Linked DNA regions of Homo sapiens. The protein of the gene in region 3 interacts with the protein of the main gene of each other region in a pairwise test. Each region holds a gene or a part of one and is shown on either strand. Other genes may lie near its edges. The genes, in order: PIH1D2, JPH3, TASOR2, CTNNA3, TRIM23, TRIM42 and LMO1.

Evidence for each region.
Region 1: the proteins of TASOR2 (region 3) and PIH1D2 interact in binary tests that used the Homo sapiens proteins (3 or more experiments, as listed by UniProt).
Region 2: the proteins of TASOR2 (region 3) and JPH3 interact in binary tests that used the Homo sapiens proteins (3 or more experiments, as listed by UniProt).
Region 4: the proteins of TASOR2 (region 3) and CTNNA3 interact in binary tests that used the Homo sapiens proteins (3 or more experiments, as listed by UniProt).
Region 5: the proteins of TASOR2 (region 3) and TRIM23 interact in binary tests that used the Homo sapiens proteins (3 or more experiments, as listed by UniProt).
Region 6: the proteins of TASOR2 (region 3) and TRIM42 interact in binary tests that used the Homo sapiens proteins (3 or more experiments, as listed by UniProt).
Region 7: the proteins of TASOR2 (region 3) and LMO1 interact in binary tests that used the Homo sapiens proteins (3 or more experiments, as listed by UniProt).

What each region holds. Positions count from the first base shown.
Region 1 is NC_000011.10:112,067,298-112,071,017, forward strand, and holds the end of PIH1D2 (PIH1 domain-containing protein 2), read right to left. Parts: intron 3,405-3,720; coding exon 3,139-3,404; coding exon of another isoform or gene 3,130-3,138; intron 709-3,129; coding exon 574-708; 3' UTR 501-573; downstream 1-500.
Region 2 is NC_000016.10:87,640,508-87,644,007, forward strand, and holds part of JPH3 (junctophilin-3), read left to right. Parts: intron 1-3,500. UniProt on the Homo sapiens protein: Junctophilins contribute to the formation of junctional membrane complexes (JMCs) which link the plasma membrane with the endoplasmic or sarcoplasmic reticulum in excitable cells.
Region 3 is NC_000010.11:5,740,338-5,743,837, reverse strand, and holds part of TASOR2 (protein TASOR 2), read right to left. Parts: coding exon 3,341-3,500; intron 1,742-3,340; coding exon 1,312-1,741; intron 1-1,311.
Region 4 is NC_000010.11:67,217,196-67,220,695, forward strand, and holds part of CTNNA3 (catenin alpha-3), read right to left. Parts: intron 2,676-3,500; coding exon 2,412-2,675; intron 1-2,411. UniProt on the Homo sapiens protein: May be involved in formation of stretch-resistant cell-cell adhesion complexes.
Region 5 is NC_000005.10:65,596,834-65,600,333, reverse strand, and holds part of TRIM23 (E3 ubiquitin-protein ligase TRIM23), read left to right. Parts: intron 1-3,153; coding exon 3,154-3,283; intron 3,284-3,500.
Region 6 is NC_000003.12:140,676,899-140,680,863, reverse strand, and holds the start of TRIM42 (tripartite motif-containing protein 42), read right to left. Parts: upstream 2,801-3,965; 5' UTR 2,635-2,800; coding exon 2,294-2,634; intron 1-2,293.
Region 7 is NC_000011.10:8,253,879-8,257,378, reverse strand, and holds part of LMO1 (rhombotin-1), read left to right. Parts: intron 1-3,500. UniProt on the Homo sapiens protein: May be involved in gene regulation within neural lineage cells potentially by direct DNA binding or by binding to other transcription factors.

The DNA.
Region 1 (3,720 bases), on a different chromosome or scaffold from region 3:
TTTAAAACAAGTGTGTCATAGCAATAGTTTTTAATTCTGGTTGATGTTTATTTGAGAAGAAGTGAGTTAAAAAATATAAGACATGGCCAGGCATGGTGTCTCATGCCTGTAATCCCAGCACTTTGGGAGGCCGAGGCAGGTGGATCACCTGAGGTCAGGAGTCCAAGACCAGCCTAGTCAACATGGTGAAACCCCGTCTCTACTAAAAATACAAAAAAATAGCTGGGCGTGGTGGTGCATGCCTGTAATCCCAGCTACTCGGGAGGCTGAGGCAGAATCGCTTGAGCCCATGAGGCGGAGGTTGCAGTGAGCTGAGATCGTGCCACTGCACTCCAGCCTGGGCAACAAGAGCGAAACTCCGTCTCAAAAAAAAAAAAAAAAAAAAAAAATATATATATATATATATATATATATATTTGACATAACAGGTGAAGAGAAAATCTCAGTCAAAATGAACTTAGAAAATAATGGAATTGGTGTTTAAGATAAACTACTACCTCTTTAGCCAAAATGAAGGTCCTTTAATTCACATGACTTTAGCACTGAAAACCCAAAACATATGATGCTCTTCTTTCACACCAAAGGCATTGTGATGATTAGCGTGGATTTTTCTTTGATAAATTTTGCTGTGGTCATTTCAGTATCAATAAGTTTTGGAAGATTCAGATGTAATCTGTACTTCTCAGATACTTCAATCAATAAATCATCCTAAGAATAATAAACCAAGAGATTTATTTCCTGCTTAAAATTTGGGATACTAACTTATTGTTCCCAGTTATTCACTCCTTTGCCATAAAAAGATCCCATTTGTTGCCATGTGACTTGGAATGAGCAAAAAATTACTGTTGTAAATCCCTTAGATTTTAAGGTGGTTACTGCTGCTCACTACATCACACGTTAACTGATACAGTACCACAGTAGAGTGTTGCCATCCTAAATTATGTGGCTGACCAGCAAACAGCAAGGAAACTTATTGGAGCCTGGAAAGGTAGTGATCCATGTTTCATAATGATGAAGCCTTTAGTGAAACTATCACAGTAATTTGGATGATAAATACTCTGTGCCTAGTTGATTTGTGGCTTTAGGTGAAGAAGTGGGAAAATAGATGGTAATGTGTTGGTTCTGTTCACTACATTTAACAGGATATTACAAGAAAGATGAGCTTAGAATGGACCATTTTGCAAGTCAAATTAAAAGGGAATTGGCTGAGTGCGGTGGCTCACACCTGTAATCCCAGCACTTTGGGAGGCTGAGGGCAGGTGGATCACTTGAGGCCAGGAGTTCGAGACCAACATGGGCAACATGGCAAAACCCCGTCTCTACTAAAAATACAAAAATTAGCCAGGCTTGGTGGCACATGCCTGTAATCCCAGCTACTCAGGAGGCTGAGGCAGGAGAATCGCTTTAACCTGGGAGGCAGAGGTTGCAGTAAGCTGAGATGGTGCCACTGCACTCCAGCCTGGGCAATAGAGTGAGACTGTCTCAAAATAAATAAATAAATAAAAAGGACTTTATAGAGCCCCAAGATTCCAAGACTCAATGACTGAAAAGTGGAACTAATTTTTATTTTCAGCAAGTAAGGGATAAAATTGAGAAATTACTTTTATCAACCAAGCTGATTAAGGCAATATAGAGGCAAAGATTAAATCTTTATGCTCTTTGTTAAAACCTCTGAATTTTTTTTGTTTTTTTTTTTTTTTGTTTTTTTTTTTTTGAGGGGAGACAGAGTCTCGCTCTGTTGCCCAGGCTGGAGTGCAGTGGCTCGATCTTGGCTCACTGCAACTTCCGCCTCCCGGGTTCAAGCAGTTCTCCTGCCTCAGCCTCCTGAATAGCTGGGACTACAGGTGCCCACCACCACGCCCGGCTGATGTTTTTTTTGTATTTTAGTAGAGATAGGGTTTCACCATGTTGCCCAGGCTGGTCTCGAACCCCTGAGCTCAGGCAATCCACCCCCCTTCGGCCTCCCAAAATCCTAGGATTACAGGCATGAGTCACCGTACCCAGCCAAAACCTCTGACTGTACTAAGGTGGACTTCAGTAAATCCTTACATTTGGCTAAAATGACAGCAATTAAGTCTAAAGAGACAGGTAAGTCTTGAAATATGGGCAATGTCTAAAAAGGAATTATGGGTATCACTGACTGGAATCAAAATGCTACCAGCCTGGACTAAAAGAAACTGCCTTCAAAATTTAAAACAATCCTTTGAGCCCCAAGATTCCATGAGCAGGAACCAGGCTGAAGAGGCTACTTAGCATATAAGAATGGCACATTCTCCGATACTCTTCAGATGTGGCCAAGGTGGATAGTGGGAAAGGGAAAAAAAAAGAAAACATCTTCCTGAAGACTGAAGCTAAAGGTCGTGGAAAAAAATGGAACTGGGGAGCTAGGTAATTACAGAACTTTCTCAAGGAACCTAAGTAAGAACATCCTCTACCTCCAGAAAAGGAGCCCTCACAATGTCTGCCTACTAGGATTTCAGAATTGCTGTGCACCAGTAACTGCAGTGTGCCTCTTATTTTTCCCATTTCTGAATTGAGATGGTTAATTACGGTTATCTTCTCCCCATTCCACATTGCATGACAGATGGGACTGAGGGAGTACATAACTTTTTTTACATGTCTTAGTCCATGGTTCAAGAGGAAGAGAAAGCAAAATTCTGTCCTTTGGAGTCTGATACTGGGATTGGAGGTGTTTTCCTTCCAGAAAGAAGCAAATATTTGCAACCAAGAGTGTAGACTGGTAGACTGTAGGACTGACTCTAACTATTTGCTCTTCTGTAAGAGGATAGTACGTTTACCCTGCCATATGACTTCCTGTGACTGTGAGAATACACTTCTCAGTCCTACTGATGTAGAACTGGCCTTGTGACTTACTTTGGCCAGTGGAGCGTGAGTAGAAGTGATATCATGAAGTGTCATGTCTGAGTAGAAGTATTACGATCCACTGCATGGTTTGATCATTCTATTTTCCCTTTGCTGAGATGTGAATGGCACATCTCAGAAGGGAATTGCTCCTTCACCGGGTAACCTGAGCAAATCATTGTAAGCCCCTGAAATTATGTAGTTTGTTACTGTGGCATAATATATGTTAGTGAATGCTGGCCAATACAAATTTACAGTGTTATCTATTCAACTTACCTCAGAAACACTAAGGTCACAGAGAGAGACAGAATTAATACCAGGTAATTCAACTTTCAACTCAATTTTCAGAGGTTTCTCACTGTGATCATGCACAATTTTTAGTTCATAGGCTGGCATCTTCATCTCCACCTGGATTTCAGTACTGGAAATCTCTTCTATCAGACACACTGCTTTGCCTGAAACTTGGTCTTTTGGCAGTAACAGTTGAGGAAAGTGATCTGGATTGCTCATAGTACTGCTTCGTATCTGTCCAAGAGTTAGTTCTTTATGAAAAAAAGGGTGGAGGGGAGATAAAAAATAAATCTACAACATAAAATACTATGAGCTATAATATATGTGGTGTTAGTAGAGATGGTAGATAAAGCTGCAGTTAAATTAGTTTGGGAATCAAGCCAAAAGAATCTTAAACCAAAGAATTTGATTGAAAATTTTTCAGGATTTAAAAATCAAGGATATGATATTTCTAATATTTAATATTTGCATTTTTCTATCTTAAGTTTTTCACCTTTTAAAATAGAGATTTCTAGTTTGCAAAATGTATACAGGATCCAAAAACATCTTAAAGCAGTTTAATTTTCC
Region 2 (3,500 bases), on a different chromosome or scaffold from region 3:
AGCCTCTTGAGTACCTGGGATTACAGGCACCCATCACCATGCCTAGCTAGTTTTTTTGTATTTTTAGTAGAGACAGGATTTCACTATGTTGGCCAGCGTGGTCTCTAACTCCTGACTTCAGGTGATCTGCTCGCCTCGGCCTCCCAAAGTGCTGGGATTACAAGCATGAGCCACCCCACCCAGCCAACAAACGCTTTTTAAATATAAGTATGTCCCATGCAGCGTGTCCCCTAAAGAACGATGTGTTGTTCATCTGAAACTCAGATGTTACCAGGCGTCCTGTGTTTGATGTGACAACCCTGTCCACAGCCCTGGCACGGAAGGGGCAGTCGCTGAGGGTGCAGTCTTGGGGTGAGGGTCCCTGTGATGGCAGCCTGTGTCCAGCTTGGACTGGCCATGGGAAGGCCACTGTGTGGGCGGGTCTGGCCTTGGTAAAGGGCCACCCCCTGAGACCCACCGAGCCTAGTTCCAGTTTCCTCCTCACAACCCCAGCCTGGAAGGGCGTTCGGGTGTGGAGCAAGCCACAGGGTTTCCCCCCAGTGTGGTTCGCATTGGGGTGCCGGGTGGTTCCGAGTCAGCTGCCCCCTCTGCCTCCTCCCCGTGCCCATCACAACTGCCCCCAGTGCTGGGACCTCTGGGCAAGAGGCTGAGGCTGACACTCTGGAAAGGTGTGCAGTGGTGTTGTGGGGTCCCTGGGGTCCGGTCCACATACATCCCTGCTTGCCCGGCTCTTGGCATCCTGTAGGAGAAGGTGCCACAGCCTAGTGGGTGGGAGGGCAGGAGCCCCATCACTGGAGTCGGAGGTTGCTTTTGATGTTGATGGCAGTGAGGTTGCTTCTGATGTTGATGGCAGTGAGGTTGTTTCCGACGTTGATGGCAGTGGACTTGCCTCCAGGTTAGCTGCCTCCCCAAGCAGCTTTGGGGGTACAGAATGACCGACCAGTGTGGGATCCCAAACATCCTATCCCCTTGCCTGAAAGTGGGACGAGGCTGAAGCTGACCTCTCGCTGAGACCACCTCATTCGGCCCCGTCCTCTGCTGCCACGTCCTTCTTCCTGGTACCCCCCTTCTCCAGCCCCAAATAAGTCACGTTCACAGGATCCCCAGCTCAGGCTCTGCTCCTGGAGAAGCTGCCCTCAGAGGCTGCGTTGCCGATTCCTTTTTCAACGGAGAGGCTGCAGCGTGTGGCAGGTGCCACCATCTCTTGGAGTGAGGCAGCCTCAGGGGCTCTGTCCGGGGCTGCAGCCTGATTGGTGATCTTTGCACGCCCCTTCTCTGCCCTGGCTGGGCCATATGCCACATGGGGCGTGAGGGGCCTGCAACACAAGTCCCTCTGGGGGCTCGTGATGTGGTTGAGCTGGAAGATACATTCTGGAACATCTAAGACCCCAGCCACTGTCCTGAGTCTGGATGCCGCGGGTGCCGGGCATGGGGGCTCTGGGCCCGGGCCCTGGGGTGCTTGGAGGTGCTGTGGAGGAGGGGTGGGGCTGGCTTGGAGCCCATGGGATTCGATTGGAGGGTGGGAGTGTGAGAGAGGAGAGAGCGTGAACAGAGCCTTGGACAGAAAAGCCTGGAAGGATCAGGACCCTTTGGGGGGTGGCGGGTGAAGGTGGCGGGGTGTGGGGATACCCTGGGGACGGACAGGTCACTTGAGGCTACAGGACTTTGAATTCCACACTTAGTTTGGATCCCACCCTCTGGTGTGGGGCGTGTGAGTGGAGGGGGCCTGGCTAGGGAAAGGGGGGGGGCAGTGGGGAGTGGAGGGCTGCTTCGCTCCGAGAGATGGCGGCACCTGCCACCCGCTGCAGCCTCTCCGTTTAAAAAGTGACTGGCAGAACAGGAGCAGCTGCTGCCAGCTCCTGTCCATTTTGTCCTCTGAAAAGAGAGGTCGGGGTGGCCAGGTCCTCATTTTTCAGGAGACAGAAGAGAGCTGAATTTTTATGTCAAATCTCTTGGTTTTGAGTTGTTAGCAGGTAATTCCAATGTTTTATGAAAACAGCGGTGGGACGAATAAAACCTACGTATCAGTAAGTCTCGGCCTCCAGGCCTCTGGTCTGCAGCCTGTGCCACCGTGAGTTGGAAGAGTGGTGGACGGACTCTGTTCTCCCCGCAAAAGCCCTTTCCAGGGTGGCACATCCACGCCGTTAGTGCCCGGCTGCAGGGAGAAGCTCAAATGACAAATGAGGCTTGAGGTTTGCCGCGTTGGGCGTCGTGCTGAGGCCCAGCCGTCCTCACGGTGACCTTTGGCATGAGGAGTCCTGGTTCCACTCTACAGACGAGGACACTGAGGGCCAGCGGGGCCCAGAAACTTCCCTGAGTCACAGCTCACAGAGCAAGACATGGGCCCAGGTCTGCTGACCGGGTTTCCTTTTTATTTTATTGTGGTAAGAGAAATACAGAATGTACCACGTTAGCTACTTTTAAGTATACAATTCAGTGGTATTAATTACCTTCACGGTGTTAGGTAGCTGTCATCACTGTTTACCTCCAAGGCTTTCCCATCATCCTACTGCAAAACTCTGTCCCTATTCAACACTGACCCCACAACCCTCCCCAGCCCCTGCACCCACCGCGCTTTCTGCATCTCTGAGCGTGACTACTCTAAGGACCCCGTGTACATGGAATCATCCGATATGTGGCCTTTTGTGCCCAGCTCAGTTCACTCTGTGTAATGTCTTCAGCGTTCATCCACATTGCAGCCTGTGTGAGAATGTTCTACCTTTTCAAGGCTGAATGATGTTCCATCGTATGGACGGACCGCATGGCGTCTGTCCATTTACCAGGTGATGGACTTGTGGGTTGCCTTTCCCTTTCCAGCCATGGAAACAGTGCTGCTGAGAACCCAGGTGCACAGGCAGCTGCTGCAGTCCCCACCCTCCCTTCTTCTGGGGATATCAGGTCTGCTGATTTTATGTCTGAAGGTCATGGGCCACTGTCCCTTCCCTATGCCCTTGAATCTCTTCCATGGTGTGTCCACTGTGTGGTCTTCCTGGATACCTCCAGCAATGGGGAGCTCACTGTCTCCCAGAGCAGCCCATTCAGGGCTTAGTGTGTAGCCCACACCTGTGTCCCTGTAGCTGCCACTCATTAGCCTCCTAACCCAGGACGCGTTTCCTTGTGCCCTTGGCAGGGGCTCCGTATTCACTCTGGGTTCTGTGGTCCTCACTCTGCACCACAGACTCTGATGCCTCCCTTCTCCCTCCCCGATTTCCAAGAGAGAACAAGATCTAGCCATGAGAAGCAGGATGGAGGTGTCTTCAAAAACAGCCACTGGTGATAGAAGTTGTAGGAAGGTACCATGGTCTGTCTGCCTCCACGCAAACCTCACCAGGTTTCATCAAGATAGCACACCAGGAGTGGTGTGGCTCATGACTGTAATCACAGCACTTCTGGAGGCTGAGGCAGGATCACTTGAGCCCATGAGTTAGAAACCAGCCTGGCCAACATAATGAGACTGCCATCTCTACAAATAATTTACAAAGTAGTGGAGCATGGTGGTG
Region 3 (3,500 bases):
TACTAAGGAGATTGTTAGGAATCACTGATTTGAACAGTCAGGCTTGCCAAAATCATTGCTAAAATTAGTACTGATGATAGTTAATTACATATTACCACGACAAATGGTATTTTATAAGAAACTAGCATGTATATATGTATTAATTTAAATCTCCCTGACTAGACTATATTTTCTTATTCTAAGGTGGTGATTCTTAACTGGATTTTATGTAATTCTTTGAGAATAGGATGGAACTGCTGAACCCCATCTTTAGGGGAAAAAAAAAGCACATACATAGTTAACATTTAGGTTTTCTAGACTGGAATCTTGGCTTGACAATTTTCTATGTGACTTTAGGCAATTTCTTTACTTCTCTATGCTTTAGTCTCGTCATCTATGTAATGGGGAGATTAATAGTCTTTAACTTATTTGAGAATGAACTGAGTTAATATGAGTGAAGGGCTTAGAACTCTTACTTTCTGGCACACAGTGACCCAGAAATCTTTAATTCTCATGATGATGACAATCACTTGAAGATATTCACGGGTTCTATGAGGCTCACCCAAGGACCTCCAAGTCCCCGGTGACCCCGGGTATAGGAACACTGTCTACTCTTTCTTAAGACAGGAATCAGAGATGCTGCCCAAACCCAAGCAATATTATTCTAGAATAAATTTGGGCGGAAAACTTTAAAAGGTAGGTAATTTTGTCAATTCATTTGCTTAGAATTTTGTTAACAACTTTTAGATTTGCTCCAGGTAAAATTTGGATTATCTGGCCTGGTTGAATGTCAGTTGAGAACAAGGAACAAAACAAAGTATATTTTCCATATTTACAAATAGTTATTTGCAATGGGTCTTCTTTCACAGGTCTGGCATTTTACTATTCCAGCATCTGTCTTCAAAAATAATTTTAATACAATTAATTTTAGTTTACTTTAAGGTTTATCAAAGTATATCTAAGATTTATTATTGCTATATTTGATCCTTAAACAATATTCTACATAAGACTTGATAGGTATTAAGTCACCTCTTTTAAAAATTAGGCAAAGAAGCAATTTGCCCCAAATTATGCTGGGCTCCCAGATCATGTGGACCCTGTGACATTTTTCTACTCTGGTTTTTTTCAATCGGGATGGCAGGTAAGCTCTACCTGCAGACAATTCAAGGACACTTCATGAAAACTAGGTTTTTGGTGTAATAGTTCTTTACATACCTTGAGAATTCACTGTCCTAAAATTTAAAAATGCCTTGTTTTGAATGTGATTTTACATATAAACATTTTTTTCTTCAAAAATAATGCCAACATTTAACGGTATTCAGCTTTACATACCTCATTATTGTAAGAACAGATGAAATTCTGGTCTTCTTGGGTGTCTGGATCACACTCTCTTGCAAAAGTTTTTTTCTGTTCATTTTGTACACAGAGTTCCAAGCCTTGGGTAAGTGGTGTTTTAATGAAAGGAAGCAAGCAGTTAGGATCACGGAAGGATACTTCAGCAGCATGAGCCCTGGAAATTTCGTTAGTCTCCAACAGAGAGTCTGCAGAACATTTTTCCAAACCAAGGGACTCCTCAATTTCACGGAGCTCACAAGATTCTAACGTGCTATTTATAGACACATATTTTGCTGGGTTGCTGTGTTCTACAACCTTTCGGGAAGATCGTATGATTTTGTTCTGATTGCTGTAAAACAGAGCTACCCACATATGAAGTAAAAGCTTCACTTCTTCCACATTATCAGGCAAATCAGTATTCCAGGGCCTAAGAGTTTACAGAAAGAACACATGAAAATCATTGAAAATGGTTATTTTAGTTGATTACCTTATCATAAGCAAGTGCCTCCAATATTCCTTAGTTTTTGTTTTTATTTTTAAAATTTACAGATATGAAACATGAATGAGTAAATATGTAGTTGACTTAACAAATAATTATCCATCTAACCCACTCATTTTACAGAGACGGGAACTGAGAATCAGAACATGTAATTGCCTTCTTTCAAATCACAAAACCTGTATGGCAGAACCATGATCTGAACATGGGTAGCACGTGTCTTTTACACCATACAAATTCACTCTGGACACAGAATACTTATTATAGAAATGGTTTCGCCAATACCCAAATCCTCATCACCATGCTTTTGCTAAGTCTGGCTGATTCATTTATTTTCCATTTTTGTGTCTCTCTTCTAATAATTGAGAAAGTCTGAAGATAAAATATCTCTCTGGGCAATTCAACAGAACTATACTATTTTCAGACTACAGTTCTGCAAAATATCCTGAAACAGTAAGGGGAAATAGAAAACATTTCTGGCCACCTGGCAGGCAAAAGGATGGCAGATCGCTGGAGTACCATAAGTCAGGGGGGCTGCAGAGTTGGGCAATAGCTAAACAGGAAGTTCTAAGGAAATGACCCTTATGAGTATATATGAACAGGTGTATAGAAGAAAGCCTGACAGCTGTAGAGTCCATATAGTCAGATGTGAAACAGTTCATTAATAGGGAGCTGAATGTCAATTCATATAGCTAATGAATGCTTGCTAACAGTGATGGTTACCATTTATTACTACTACTGGCCAGTCACTGTGCATCTCAATATATGTAACCTCAGGACACAGCTACATAATTAAATGTTGGCCACAGACTGTCATCCACCATTGATATCACCTGAAAATTTGTTAGAAATGCAGAATGTCAGGCCTCTCCCAAGGAGAATGCATCAAAATCTGCAGTTCAGTGAAATCTCTAGATGAGCAGCACACACAATTAAGAAGCACTGTCCAGAAGCAAGAAACTTGCCCAGGATCACAGGAGGTAAGAAAGGGAAAGAACCCGGGTTCAAATCTAGGTTAGTCTACACTCCAAAGCCTGTGCTGTTCACCACTCTGTTATTACTGACTTGATTCCTTCTTAAGGGAGATCTATAGAACAATCTTATGTGAAACTGCTTACTCCTATCAATCTGACCAATTTACCAAGCTACAGTGATTTTTAAAATGTTTCTTCTGGAATTCAGTCTGTAAAGCATTATTTCTAAATCTCACACTATTTTACATTAAGATCTCATCTAAAAATTGAAATTCAAAAGCCACAAGGGCTTACGAGGGAGCATTGCAAAATGGAAAGCTATTCATTAGGCTAAAATTATCTTTAAAAACTTCTCCACATGAGCACAGGGGGAAAACCAGCCTGTTACTCTTAATTGCCAGGAAACATGTTTGCTTGATGTTATTATCAAATTACTGGTTTTAAACACAACACTTCTTTCTCCTTCTCCAGAGTTTGGCATAAGTTTCCCCATCTCACTACATTCATCTCAACAGAAAAGTTTCATCCATTTTCACTAAGTTTCACTCATACTCACCCATGTAATGCTCTTACTACAGTTTTCTCCAGTGGGTTGTTGGTATATTTGCTGTCTAAACTGAATGCATATTCTGTTTCACATTTGAAAGTGATCTTAACGGAGTCATCACAGCTAAGCACTATACGAGAGCAAGAAGATTTTTTCACACGGGCAGACG
Region 4 (3,500 bases), about 61 Mb from region 3:
AGCAAAATAGAGCAAAGGTTATTTTGGATCCTTTACCAATACAGCTTCCTGTAAATAATGAAAAGTGCAACCATTTAATTTACCAAATCATTAAAAAAGGTTAAATGCTCAATAAATTCTGCTTTATCTAGTTCAGTCAGCCACAGCAGCTATTTGTAACTTGGATATAAAAAATATAGAAAACTTAGGCATTTTTTACTAGTTTGTGCATCTGTACCTTTGACTAGAACTAAATTTCAAAGGTTGTTCAGACAGTTTAGAATCCTCATTAGGATCTCAGAGAAATATCTTTTGGACCCCTTCCCGCCTCATGAAGAACAACTGAGTCTGCCTTTCTTAAGAGAACACTGTTGCCCTGCCTATGCCCACTCCCACTGAAGTTACACACATAACACGCACACTTTCTCCTCCTCTCCAACCACTGCCATTTTGTGCCTGTGGCAGTCACTTTCAACTAAAAAGAGAAAAGAGAAGAGGTCTCAGAAGGAGGAACAATTTGGAAATGTCTTCTTCTTTAATCCTAAAATACAGAATGCATTGTCTGAGATAAACTGGAGCTCTTATGGGAGCATTCTCTGACACAATTGTGTTTTAGTACTGTGAAAAATGTGCTATACAGGTTGAGCGTTGCTAATCTAAAAATCTGAAATCCAAAATGCTCCAAAATCTAAAACTTTCTGAATGCCAATGTGATGGCACTAGGGAAAAATTCAGCATCTAACTTCATGTGACAGGTCGCAGTTAAAATGCAGTCAAAACATCATTTCATGCACAAAATTTTTAAAATGTTGTATAAAATTACCTTCAGGCTATGTGTATAGGGTATATATGAAATATAAATGAATTTCATGTTTACACATCAATCCCATTCCCAAGATAATTCATTAGGTATATGCAAATATTCCAAAATCCAAAAAATTCCAAAATCCAAACCACTTCTGGTCCCAAGCATTTCAGATAAGGGATGCTCAACCCGTATGATCCTATCTATCTACTCTAACAAATTTCAATGTATCACACTCGGCACTCCCCAGATACAGACTACAGATGGTCCCTGACTTGATTTAACAATGGTTCAACTTATAATTTTTTCCAGCTTTATCATGGTGCAAAAGTAATACATATTCAGTGTGTATATAGAGTGTTTCAGGCCCCTAAAGGTCATACCCTTCCCAGGGTAGAGTAACCTGCATCCAGTGACTGAAAGAGACATACAGGCCTGGCCATTTCTGCCTGACAAGGTACACTCTGGAGGGCAATGCTCTCACCAGAGCTCCCTGCTGATTGGCCTAGGCTTTGCGGGTCTAGCTGTCAGGTAGACTTCTTCCTCTATCCAGTCCCGCTCCTTCCCTCTTTCCTTCCCAAATGTAACACCTTGTTTTCCAAACTCCATTCTGTGTGTGATTCTGGAGGACCCAGCCTACAACACTAGCCATGACTCCTTCCTTTCATTCATGTCCCACATCCATTCTATCAAAATTCAGTTGACTCTATTTACAAAATTTAGCACTGATGTCCACCAACACCACTCTAGTCTAAACTAAAACATGAGGTGGTTCATGTAAAGTGTATAAATGGAACCTGGGTTACTACAATAGCCTCCAGCCTGGTTTTTCAGTTCCTCTCATTGTTCTCCTTCAGTCTATGTTCCTTATGCAACTATCATAGTCCTTTTAAGACACGAGTCGCAGCATGTCACACCTTTGCTTAAAACCTTTCAGTGTATTCCCATTTAACTTGGAGTAAAAGCCAAAGTCCTTAAAGGCATACACACTCCTAAATGGTTGGTTCTCCAACCTTAGCTCCTGCTACTCATCACTTTGCTGTCTTCACCTAGACACCCTGGTTTTTATGTTGTCACTTAAACACAGGGCACATACCTTCAAGCCTTTGCTCTAGATCTTCATCTGCCCGATTCCTGAACTCTTTCAAGGCTTTGGCATTATCTCACCTTCTCAGTGTAACATCTATACAATTTTGTTCTCTACAGTGTTTATTGGTTTTATTTTTTGCCTATAATCACCTGCTAAAATGTAAAAATTTGTCAAGGGAAGTGATCAGATATGTCCCAAGCACATAGAACAGTAATGCCAATAAGTATTTGTGGAGTGAATAAATCTTATGCTTCATAAGTAGATCTACATAAAACAAAGTCATCATTTCGATCTAATTAACAATCCCACTTCAAATTCATTGGATTCCTTGGCAGAGATGTACAGGAGTCAGAAGTTTACTAACAGAGTACTTTCCTGTTAATCAATTCTTTGGAAGACTCAAGAAGGTGATAGAGACTAATCTGGATTTTTTATTTTCTCATGCTCTAAACGCCAACATGTGGATCTTCTTCTGTTTTATTATTATTATTACTGTATTAGGACATCAGATCACACTTTATCTTTCTCCCGACTTACCTCCAGCTCATCAAGGGCACTTCCCAGGGTTGCTGCCTGAGGTTCTGGTGGGGTTGTCATATTCTGGATCCCTTGTGAAGCATTTGAAATTACATTGAGAGCATTCTGAATTTCTTCACAAACTGTGTCCTTGCTTGCTTTGAGGGAAGCAACATCAGAATGCTCCAAACAAGCTGAACAAATTGAATGCAAGAGGGGAGAGTTCTCCTTCAGTGAAGCTCGGGCTCCTGCAATTTCATCTCTCTGATTTGGAGATTTTAAGTCCTGAGAAGGTAAATAAAAAGAGTGGTATCTTACAATGGGTTATGGGAGAAAGACTTAAATTAAAAAGCTTCTTTTTTTGTAAGTATAAATGAAAAGATAATAGACATGAAGAAGTCAGCTATAAGTTATAATCAAGGGCATCTATTATTTCTACATTCTTTCAGTTTCTGTTAAAAATTCTGCAGTATAAACAATGACACAGTTAATAAGTAAAGGTCCCCGTAGAGCAGATGTGTAAAGATCCATTACTATTCAGTCAAGTCCTTGTCAGTCAAATCCTTATAAGTAGCTAAAATACTCTGGCATTCACATTATTAAGTGCATTACATGGGAGCTTGAATTACAAGGATGCTGATTACCTCATTCCATAGATGTTGATAATTGCATTTAACCTCTCCGTTAAAATTAGACCAATTGAGTTAAGAACACTAATGAAACCTCCCACCATTCAGCTATTTTTCTTTTTCAGAAATACTAATAAATTAATCCTATATCATTCTTTCTTTGATATTTATTCAACAATTAGTTACTGAGCACTTAGCATATTCTAGCCCTTGTGCTGGACTCCAGTGTACAGATATGAAAAAATCCTACAAGGACCTTGTTCTTCTTTCTTTTGGGGGGAAAGGGCCTACAGACAAACAATGAACTAGATGAACAAATATACGAGATGATTTCAGGTGACAATAAATGCTATGAAGAAAACACAAAAGTGAAGTGTCATAGAGATTGACTTGAAAGGAAAAGCTGCTTTAGGCTGAATGGTCCGAGAAGGTATTTCTTCAGAGATGACAATTTGCAGTAAATGTAAATGAATAGCATTAC
Region 5 (3,500 bases), on a different chromosome or scaffold from region 3:
CTGTTGGTTTGTATGTCTCATCTTTATGCCAGTACCACATAGTTTTCATTATTGTAGCTGATATGGCTTGGATCTATGTTCCTGCCCAAATCTCATTTCCAGTTGTAATCCCCAATGTTGAAATGGGGCCTGGTTGGAGGTGACTGGATCATGGGGGCAGTTTCTCATGAATGGTTTAGTATCATCCCCCTTGGTACTGTCTTTGCCATAATAGGTGAGTTCTCATGAGATCTGGTCGTTTAAAAGTGTGTGGCACCTCCCCCACCCTCTCTCTTGCTCCTGCTCCTGCCATGTGAAATGCCTCACTCCCTCTTTGCTTTCCACCATGATTGTAAGTTTCCTGAGGCTTTCCCTGAAGCCAAGCTGATGCCAGCATCATGCTTCCTGTACTGCCTGTGGAACTGTGAGCCAATTAAACTTTTCTTTATAAATTACCCAGTCTCAGGTATTTCTTTATAGCAGTGCAAAAACAGAACAATACATTAGCTTTGTAATATATTTTGAAGTAAGGAAGTGTGAGTCCTCCAACTTTTTTCTTTTTCAAAATTGTTTTGGCTATTCAGGGTCACTTGAGCTTCCTTATAAATTTTAGCTTAATTTTTTCTATCTCCACAAAAAACATGATTGGGATTTTGATAGGGATTGCATTGAATCTATATAAATTACCTGGGCTGTTATTCATATCTTAATATTTTATGTCTTTCAATCCATGGACATGGAATGTCTATTTATGTCTTAATTTATTTTAGCAATATTTGTAGTTTTTAGTGTACAAGTCTTTCACCATCTTGGTTAGGTGTACGCCTACATATTAGGTTGGTGCAAAAGTAATAGTGGTTTTTGCCATTAAAAGTACTGGCAAAAGCCGCAGTTGCTTTTGCACCAACATAGTATCTTAAGTCTTTCACCATCTTGGTTGAGTTTATTCCTAAGTATCTTAAACTTTTTTTTCTGTACATGTTCAGAGAAACTTCTTTAGTCATAAACTATAAAAATGATCCCTGAAAGTATAATTTTGATGCTATTTTAAGTAGAATTGTTTCCTTAATTTCCTTTTGGGATTTTTATCATTAATGTATAGAAATGCAACTGATTTTCATGTTGATTTTATATCCTGAAACTTTGTTGACTTTATTCTAATAGGTCTTTTTGTGTGGACTCTTCAGGGTTTTCTACATACAAGATCATGTCATCTGTGAAGAGATATAATTTTACATCTTCCTTTACAATTTGGATGTCTTTTATTATTCTTCTTGCCTAATTGCTCTGTGGGCATCTTCTTGTTCTTTATCTTAGAGAAAAAGCTTTCAGTTTTTTGAGTATGATGTTAGCTGTGGGCATTTCTTATATGGTGTATGTTAACTGAGGCAGTTTCCTGCTACTCCTAGTTTGTTGAATGTTTTTATTATGAAAGGGTATTGAATTTTGTTAAATGCTTTTTCTGCAACTATTGAGATGATTACGTGCTTTTTTTCTCTCATTCTGTGTATTATGCTGATTGATGATGAATAATTCTTGCCTTCCAGTTATAAAGCCCATTTGGTCATGGCGTACAATCCCTTTAATATGTGTTTTTTTTTTTTTTGAGGCGGAGTTTCGCTCTTGTTGCCCAGGCTGGAGTGCAATGGCGCGATCTCGGCTCACTGCATTCTCCACCTTCCGGGTTCAAGCGATTCTTCTGCCTCAGCCTCCTTGTAGCTGAGATTACAGGCGTGCGCCACCATGCCTGGGTAATTTTGTATTTTTAGTAGAGACGGGGTTTCTCTATGTTGGTCAGGCTGGTCTCGAACTCCTAACCTCAGGTGATCCACCCCCAACCTCGGCCTCCCGAAGTGCTGGGATTACAGGCATGAGCCACCACGCCCGGCCTAATGTGTTGTTGAATTCAGTTTGCTAGTATTTTGTAGTTTCCTCCTGGTTGCACCTCATCCTCACTATGTTGGATATGGGGAAGGGCAGGGATGAGTGCACAGAATGCCCCAAATTTTATTACCCCTTTCACTGGAATGCCTTCTTGGTTTTATGGCCTGGGTGCTGTAGTTTCTTAACTGTTCTCTAGAGTTCTCACAGAAGTAGTTCTGTTCCATATATTGTTTTATTTCTGAGGTGTATAACTGGACTTAAGTATAGATTTGGAGCCATAATATACATGGTAATTAAAGCTCATGAAGAGAATGAAAATATGTAGAATGAGAAGGAGGCCTCATATAGACCCTCAAGAATACCAACATTTAAGAGCTGGATTAAAGAAAAATTAGAAGGAACATCCAAAAATGGGATAAAACCAAACCAGGAAAAGTTTGTATCATAAAATCCAAGCAAAGAGTGCTCAAAGGAGTAAGCAAAAATAACACATATATTTTGGGAACTGTTGTAAGGACTTTTATATGTATTCTTAAAAATTAATCCTTTCAAGAATCCTATGTAAATTTTGTACTATTTTAATCCTCCTTTTATGAGATGAAAGAAGTGAAGCAGAGAAATCATGCAGCTAGTAATATATAAAAATGTTCATTATAGCATTATTTGTAATATCATAAAATCAGAAATTACCTAAAATCTATCAGTTGGGGGTTTAGTTAAATTGTGGTTTATGAAATGTAAAGAAGCCATTAAAAGAAAAAGGTTGGTCAATATGTATTGACAGGATTCCATAATATACTGTTGAGTGAAACACATTAGTTTCAATGTGTGGGTAATACTTTTTTAAAAAAAAATTTGTTTTGTTTGTGTATGTTGGCCAGTATGTGCATGGAAAGTGTCTGGAGGGATATACATCAGATTCATAGTAGAAATTTCTGGGAATTGAGCAGCACTTTTTCATTTTAATTGATTTACCCTTATTGTGATTTTTTTAGTATAGCATAAAAACATGTTTAAGATTTAGAGGATTCATTTGAGTTAGAAAATCTGAGAAAATTAAGTGGGTATGTATATTCTGTTATACAAAGACAAAGTGGTCAGTTTTACTAAGGCAAGATTTAGCCATGGGGAAGGATTTCATCTTCTTGAGATCAGACTCAGTATTTTGAGGAATACAATTCAGATTGCAATGGTTGAGGAATGAATAGGAGATGTAGAAATAATAAAGGTGCTAAATGCTATTACTTTCTAACTGCATGTCAAACATATTTAAAAATATTTAAATTGTAGGATAATCGAGTTCACATTGGACCAAAAATGGAAATTCGGGTCGTTACGTTAGGATTGGATGGTGCTGGAAAAACTACTATCTTGTTTAAGTTAAAACAGGATGAATTCATGCAGCCCATTCCAACAATTGGTAAGTATGAATATTGGTTTTTACCTTAATAGACAAACCCTAGCTTACAGCCAAGTTCTTGGGGTCTTATTTGATACTGATCTGTCATGGTGGTGGGCTCTTTTCTGGCTCTAAGATATCAGCATCTCAGAGAAAAAATGCAAGATTGTATGACTATGGGATTGAAATGTGGATGGGGATAAAAAGAAGAAACAGAGTATTGGTGGGACAGTTGGAA
Region 6 (3,965 bases), on a different chromosome or scaffold from region 3:
GAGTCCTGACAGTCACAGGTGCTTCCCAAGTATATTGGAATGGAGTGGCCCTGTGGTGACAGAGAATGCTCCCTGTGTATATTAAGGCACCTGGAAAATTTGTCCCTTAGGGATCTGGGAGCTCTAGGCATGCTGGCCTCGATGTTCTCACCTCTATTTCCTCTCTGCTTTCCCAGATTCCTGCATGGGTCCTGAAGGGATCACCTGGTGGTACAGGTTAATTGTCCATGTAGTGCCTGGATGGACTTTAGTTTGCTTAAAAAAGTAAGGCCTGGAGAATCAAGGTATAATATAAAGAGAGGCTGTTATGAGGCCTTCACAGGAGGTATCTCTACTAGGAAGCTCATGAACTAGCATTTTCACAAAAAAGAAAGAAGAAGTGGGGGAGGGAGGTGTTGGAGGATGAGAAAGAGGTCTCAGGGCTAAGAGACAGGTATTAATGGCCTAGGGAGCTGTGTTAGGGGTGAAAAAGGAAGTGACAAAAAGATTAAGATGGAGAGGGATGAATGAGACCAGAGTGAGGCAGGACAAGTAAGGTGCTGAGCAGAAGGTGGTGATGAGAAGCAGGGGAGGCAGAGGGTCAGAAGCCAGGAGAGAGGCCAGATTGAAGAAAAGCACCCAGAGCCGACCTCCTAACACTTGTGGTAGCATCCCTGCCCATCCTCCAAAAGCCTCAGGCTTGGACGGGGCATTCAGTGGCCATGGTTCCATTTCAAAACAGTCATCAAGCCCAGCGCTTTTATCTTCTTGCTGAGATATCCTGTCTCTGCTCCTCTGCACAGCCCCCTCTGTCTCCCAAAATCAGGCCTGTTCTTGCACCTGGATTCTTACTGTACCACCTATCAAATCTCCTGGCTTCCCTCCTAGCCTCCTGCAGGCCATTCTGCACATTAGAATCACCTGAAGCGGGGTGGGGGGGTTGATTCTAATTAATTCAGATGCTCAGATGGTACCCCAGACCAATAAAATCAATGTTTGGGGGGGTGGGGATCAGGCATCAGTAATTTTAAAAGATCCTCAGGTGACTTCAATGCACAGTAACGTTGGGGAGCTACTGAGCCTAAGGCATTTTCCTAAAGCACCAATTTTATCCCTTTCCTGTTGAAATGGGCTCAGAGGTTCAGTTGCTGTTGCACAACTGAACAACAGGTAGTTGAGAGAGGAGTGTGGACACAATTTTCCATGTTTTAGGATTTCTAGACTTGCATCGAGAATCCCTGGATTTCCTATTTATGCAAACACTATGAGAGGGTCATGGGTGGAGAGCTATGTTTGTTAAGCATCTACTAAATGTTTAATTGCAAGATGGATAATATCTTTCCCCTGAATTCACCAAACCTTTGCTCACAGAATTGCTTTTCCAGGCTTGAAAGCCTTCAAACTGGCCTTCCATTTTTCTGCCTCTTCTAATCCTGTCATCTTATGGTGCTGTCATCTTTCCGCTTCTAAGAAGTGTGCTCTTACTACTTCAGACTCCCCTCATGTGTGACATAAAAAGACTGGTTTGGTAGAGCAGGTGAGGATAATGTAGGACCTGATATGAAGGGTTAGCACTCCAAATGAATAATTGAGACCCTAAGTACTATGACTTCTGGATGGGAAAAAGAAGGTAGTAGGAGTTCATGGATGTATGGGGTATTTATATGGTCCGCAGGGTCAAAAGTGCCCCATAGAAGTTCTTTCTTTTCCATTAAAAGTTACAGGTATTAAGAGTTCATAGGAAGAGAAAGAGCAATTTATATTTTTATATCACATACAGATTACAAAGCACATACATTAATCCTTATATCTACAATATCATGGGGGGGGTATTGTCTCCGTTTTGCAATACAGCATTTTAAAGTTAAGATCCCAAATTTTAGGTTCCAATCCTGACTCTGTATCTTTCCAGCTGTGTGATCCTGGGGCTACTTAACTTCTCAAAGGATCAGTTTCCTCATGGAAACAGTGGACTTAGGGTGAGGGGTTAGCTGGGGTCATGCATGAAGTGCCTGGCAAGTTCCTTAAGCACTAAGTATTAGCTATTACTGTTTTGTACAGATGAGAGAGTTGGGGTTCAGAAGAGTGAAGTGCTCATTTACATAGTTAATGGCGCTTAGATTTGGAGCTCATGGTCTACATACATAGTGACCATTTAGGATACAATTAATTGCTACAAAATTCTTGGCTCCTCCTTTTAGATAAAGAAATGAACTCAGAGGCTCACTGGCCTGCCCTGTAGACTTCACAGCTGGCAAGTGGTCCCTAGTTTTCATGACCCAATGCGGCCCCACATCTGGTGCCTGGCACTTACGAGGTATGGATGCTCCTGAGGCGGCCCTTGTGGAAAGTGATGATGGTATTGCGGCAGCAGCGGCTCTCATAGTAGTAGCAGTTGAGATTGCTGCTGGCTGTGCAGCAGCACTTACAGTTGGGATCATTGGCCCAAGAGCAGCAACACCAATGGCAGTTGGGGCTCTCAGAACAGGTGCAGTGGCAGAACTGGCAGTTCCGCTCATCTTTGTAAGGGCAGGGGAAGCAGGTGCAGTTCCGCTCTGAGGTGAAGATGAACTTGCAGCACAGACAGGAGCATAACTGAGGACAACATCTCTGCCATGTACAACATGGACAGCAAACGCACATAGCAGTTTCCATGGTGCCTACATGATTACCACCGGCCTCCCAGGACTCTTGATGCCTCCTCTACCAGAATACTGCTATCAGTTCTCCAGTGGAGGAGTCCTTCCTCCCATTCCTGAGGCCGTCAGCTTGAAAGTTGCAAGAAGTTGGCTGTTATGAGGACTTCACAGCTGGTGTCCCTACCAGGAAGCTCATAGGCTGGCATTTACATATATCAGTCTGAGGGTATTTGCTTATGTCACAATCCCTGTCTCTCTACCATGCTAGGTAGATAGCAGGATGCGGCCTTGTGGGTGGTAGCTGGTATGTTGGTGGAAACTCCATGCTTCCATGGAACCAGCTGTAGAGGAGTGGTGATGCAATGAGCATCCTGGAAGTTTAGTTGTCATTTGTCACCTTTTGGATAATGGAGTAGATTTCTGAAGCTATTTCTCCTTGTTTGGTGTTCTGCCTGCAATTTGGACAAGTGGACTTCAGATTATGTCTTCGTAGACTGAAAGGCTTGGGTATGGTTAATTAGAAAAGTAGATTCACATGGTTTTCCACATGTTAGAGGAATTGATAGAATTCTATTTGAACAAAGGACAGTGTTTACAAATAATAGCAATGCCATATTTAAAGAGATATCACCATTCAGAGAAAGAGTTAAAGAAAAAAATATATAGGTTCACTTAGGAACTTCTTTCAGTAGTAATTGATTTTATCAATCAATGCATAGTCGCTGCTCATTTTCATGAAGCTTTATACTTAAGTCACTCTGAATATTTCTTGGGTTTTTTGTAGCTGCATGGTGTTTGGGTGAGGTTCAAGCTTTCTGTCTTTTCCCCATCCTACCCCCACTCCAAAAAGAGGCTGGAACTCTACATTAAATCTTTAACTGTTCTGCTAGTATATGCTCAGTATTCCTAGAAAAAAGACCCTATATTTTAGGGAAGAATTTCACCTTCCCATTTAAGCAGCTTGCAAAGATTAAAAGAACAGAAATTTCATGGTCATAGTACATTATAGTATGAATACTGTCTTGTTTTTAGAAAAAGAAGCAGAAGTGAGAGCTGAGTTTAGCTGCAGGAATTTACTGCATAATTTAGTATCTCCCCCTATGGTTATCACCTTTATAATAGAGAAAATCACTGAGTGCCAACTATGCCAGCCACACATTGATATTAGATTTCTACAAGTGAAAATCCCGGCTCTTAGGGTATGTCCTTTATCTTTTTTTAAGGCAAACTGCTAAATTTCTTACTCAAATAAATGTGCCAGTTAATACCAGCAAGGAACATACAACATTCAAAAAAGTGAAACTCCTTTTCCTCACGTTTGCCAAAACTCAGTTTTATCAATCTCTC
Region 7 (3,500 bases), on a different chromosome or scaffold from region 3:
CTTTGGAAGTGGAGAAGCCCCAGAGGTTCCTATGGCATGTGTCCCATCTTGCTTGCCTGTCCTGTCTGGAGTTGGAGGACACTGAGACATGCAAGGTGTCCTCCCATTTCCAGGCTTAGCTCTTTGTGGTGCTGCTAGAGTGAGTTTTCCCAGCAGGCCCATATTTGGGATTGGACTACACCAGTGGAGTCAACTTGTCCTGGCTTGCAAGAGATTCTGTACATCTGTTCCCAACTCTGAGTTCAGAGACACTGCATTGGTAGCTTGAAGTCAGCCACAATGGGAGTATTTGTACCATGGATGTTGGCAAACACTACAAATCAGGGCATTTTCCCAAAGACTTGGTCGTTAAGCATGCATCAGCACACCACTGGATTGCATTCATCTGGGACTCTGGACCTACCCTTTTCTCCTCTGCTACCACCATTCTCATCTCACCTGCTATCTTTCTTGTGGTGCTCATTACAACCAGTCTGACCCAACCTCTGCTACCCTGGCATCCTGCCTGAGGCCTACTGCTGCTTTGACCATCACACTAAACTATGCAGGTTTAGTATGTCTGCTCTGGTTTTGGGTTCCATGAAGACTCAGCATTTGCCTCTATTCCCTTGTTCCTATGTCCTCCTTGCCTGGCATGCCCTTTCTCCTTTAGTTGGCTGAGGCTTCTCCCAGGCCATTCCAGGCCATGCTCAGAGACACATCCACCAAACCTAGCAACAAGCTTGTTCGCTACTGGTGGGAGTGTGTTCGTTTTGTGTTCTGTCCAAGGCAGGAGTTCACAGTAGCTGATACAACTGGGGGCAAATTAAAAGCAGGTGGTGTGAGAGGAGTGAGCAGATTGGTCCAGGTCGCAGAGGCAGCTGCCCAGTGTGAAGGCCCATGGGCTCAGGTCACTAGCTCCTCCCTCCTGTCCCTTCCCCTGGAGGTCAACTGGGCTTTCTTGAGTGGCCTCCTGTCTACAGGTGTAGTCCGCTAGCATGATTCAGAAAACCTGGGTTTTGTCCCAGCTGACTGCTGTGTGACTTCAGCGCACTGGGCCTCAGTTTTCTCATCCCTACAAAGGGTGAAACACCTAACTGGCACTTTATGTCCAAGCACACACTTGATAAACCAGAAAGTTTCATGCTTGTATGAATTGACATTGCTCTCTGTACAGTTACAGTATCATCTTTTGGCTTTGGCCTCTCAGTCTTTAGGAGTCATAAAACACTATAGCTATCATTATACTGAACCCGTACTTAAAAGTGCAGCATTGGCCGGGCGCGGTGGCTCACGCCTATAATCCCAGCACTTTGGGAGGCCGAGGCGGGAGGATCACGAGGTCAGGAGATTGAGACCATCCTGGCTAACACGGTGAAACCCCGTCTCTACCAAAAATACAAAAAATTAGCCGGGCGTGGTGGCGGGCGCCTGTAGTCCCAGCTACTCAGGAGGCTGAGGCAGGAGAATGGCGTGAACCCAGGAGGTGGAGCTTGCAGTGAGCCGAGATCCCGCCACTGCACTCCAGCCTGGGCGACAGAGCGAGACTCCGTCTCAAAAAAAAAAAAAAAAAAAAAAAAAGTGCGGCATTGTGCTATCTGTATGTATCAATTAGTTATTGCTGTGTAATCAGTTACCCTAAAATGTAGAGCCTTAACACAATAAGCATTTATTTAACTCAAAAATCTGTGGGTCAGTGATTTAAGCAGGGCTTGGCTGAGCAGTTTTTCTGGTCTCAGCTGGGCTCACTCACATCTGGAGGATGGAGGATGGCTGATCAGTTGGATGCTGGGCGTGACAAGACTGCATGGCCCTCATTAGCCAGAAGGCTTGTCCGACTTGTTCTTATGGCAGAGACCGGTCCGGAAGGTGTGGAAGCACAAAAGCCTTCTCTTTTTTGAGACATCTCACTCTGTTGCCCAGGCTGGAGTGCAGTGGCACAATCACAGCTTCCTGCAGCCTTGACCTCTTGGGCTCAAGTGATCCTCCCTCTTCAGTCTCCCAAGCTGAGACTATAGGTCCATATCACCATGCCTAGCTAATTTTCGTATTTTTTGTAGAGATGAGATTTCATTACGTTGCCCAGACTGGTCTTGAACTCCTGGGGTCAAGCGATCCACCTGCCTCAGCCTCCCAAAGTGCTGGGATTACAAGCTTGTGCCACTGCGCACCACCACACCCAGCCTACACAAGGCTTCTTGAGGCCAAGGTTTGGCACTGGGATCTTGTCGCTTCTGCTGCATTCTATCGGCCAAAATAAATCACAAGGCCAGCCCAAGTTCAAAGGGTGGAGAAGCAGATTCTGCTCTTGAAGGTAGGAGGTGAAAAGTCATATAACAAATGGTGTGGCTGTGGGGAAGGGTAGAGAATTGGGGCCATTTTTGTAATCAGTCCACCAAGCATCTTCCATGTATAATCTCATTTAATACCCATAAGAACCTTAGGAAGAAGCTACTATTACCCTCATTTTACAGATGAGAAAATTATTGTACAAAGAGATTGAGTAATTGGTTCCAGCTCCCACAGCTCAAGAATGCCAGGGCTGGGCTGTGAACCCAAGCAGGCTGACTGCAGAGTCAGTGCGCTCACTCTCTCTGCTCTGTCTGCTCCCTTTTCCAGCTGTCAGACGTGGGGATGGAGAGAAAGACACTCAGAGTTCAAGGAAGGGTGACGAACCTGTGAGAAGATGACTTGGGGAGGGAGGAAGGTTGCTGTGGGCAGTTTGAGTGGGGCTGCCATGGGAGCCCAGCTCCATTCCTCCCAGGGCCAGCCTCGGTGGGGAGGGACCATAATCAGGTCAGTCCCCGTTGCCTCTTTCAGGTTTTCCTCTCTGTCCTGCAAAGCCACTAGACGGCTTGAAAGGATGTGATGTTCTGTGTTCCCTGAGCTGACTTAGACCTGAGCATATATGCAGATGCAGCCAGGTGAGAATCAATTCATTGGTTGGCCCCTAGCCTCAAAATGGGGTGGTAAGTGGGCTGGTGAGAGGCCTGTGTACATTCATAAACCAGCTGATTGAAAAGCAATATTTCAGATAAATACAAGCCAGCGATCTATCAGTGGTTGTAATAAAACCCAGGCTTCAGGCTGTGATTTTATTTTGAAATAATAAGAATTGCTTGATTCTTTTTACTTGAGTTACCATGGTAATTCCGGCGTGGAGCAGTGTTATATTGATTTAGAAAGTGGACAGTAATATTTCTTTTGTGTTATTCTGTTTCTAGGCCTTGATTTCTAATTTCCACTTGGAGATTACTTTTATAAATTTCTTAAGTCCTTCCACTTTTTTTTCCTCTCACAGTATAATTTTCCTCTCATACGCCGCTATGTTCTGAGCTTATTGGTTTGCTCTTATTTTAAATTAAACTTGCTGGTTTCAAATATTGAAATGACATCTTTGTCTGTGTCTGTACTTTGGTTTAGCAAAATATTACAGTCTGACGCATTCTGCTTAATAATTTAGGGGAGGCATTCTGTCGGCCCTCACTGGGTGCTGATAACTTATGACTCAACCAACGCAG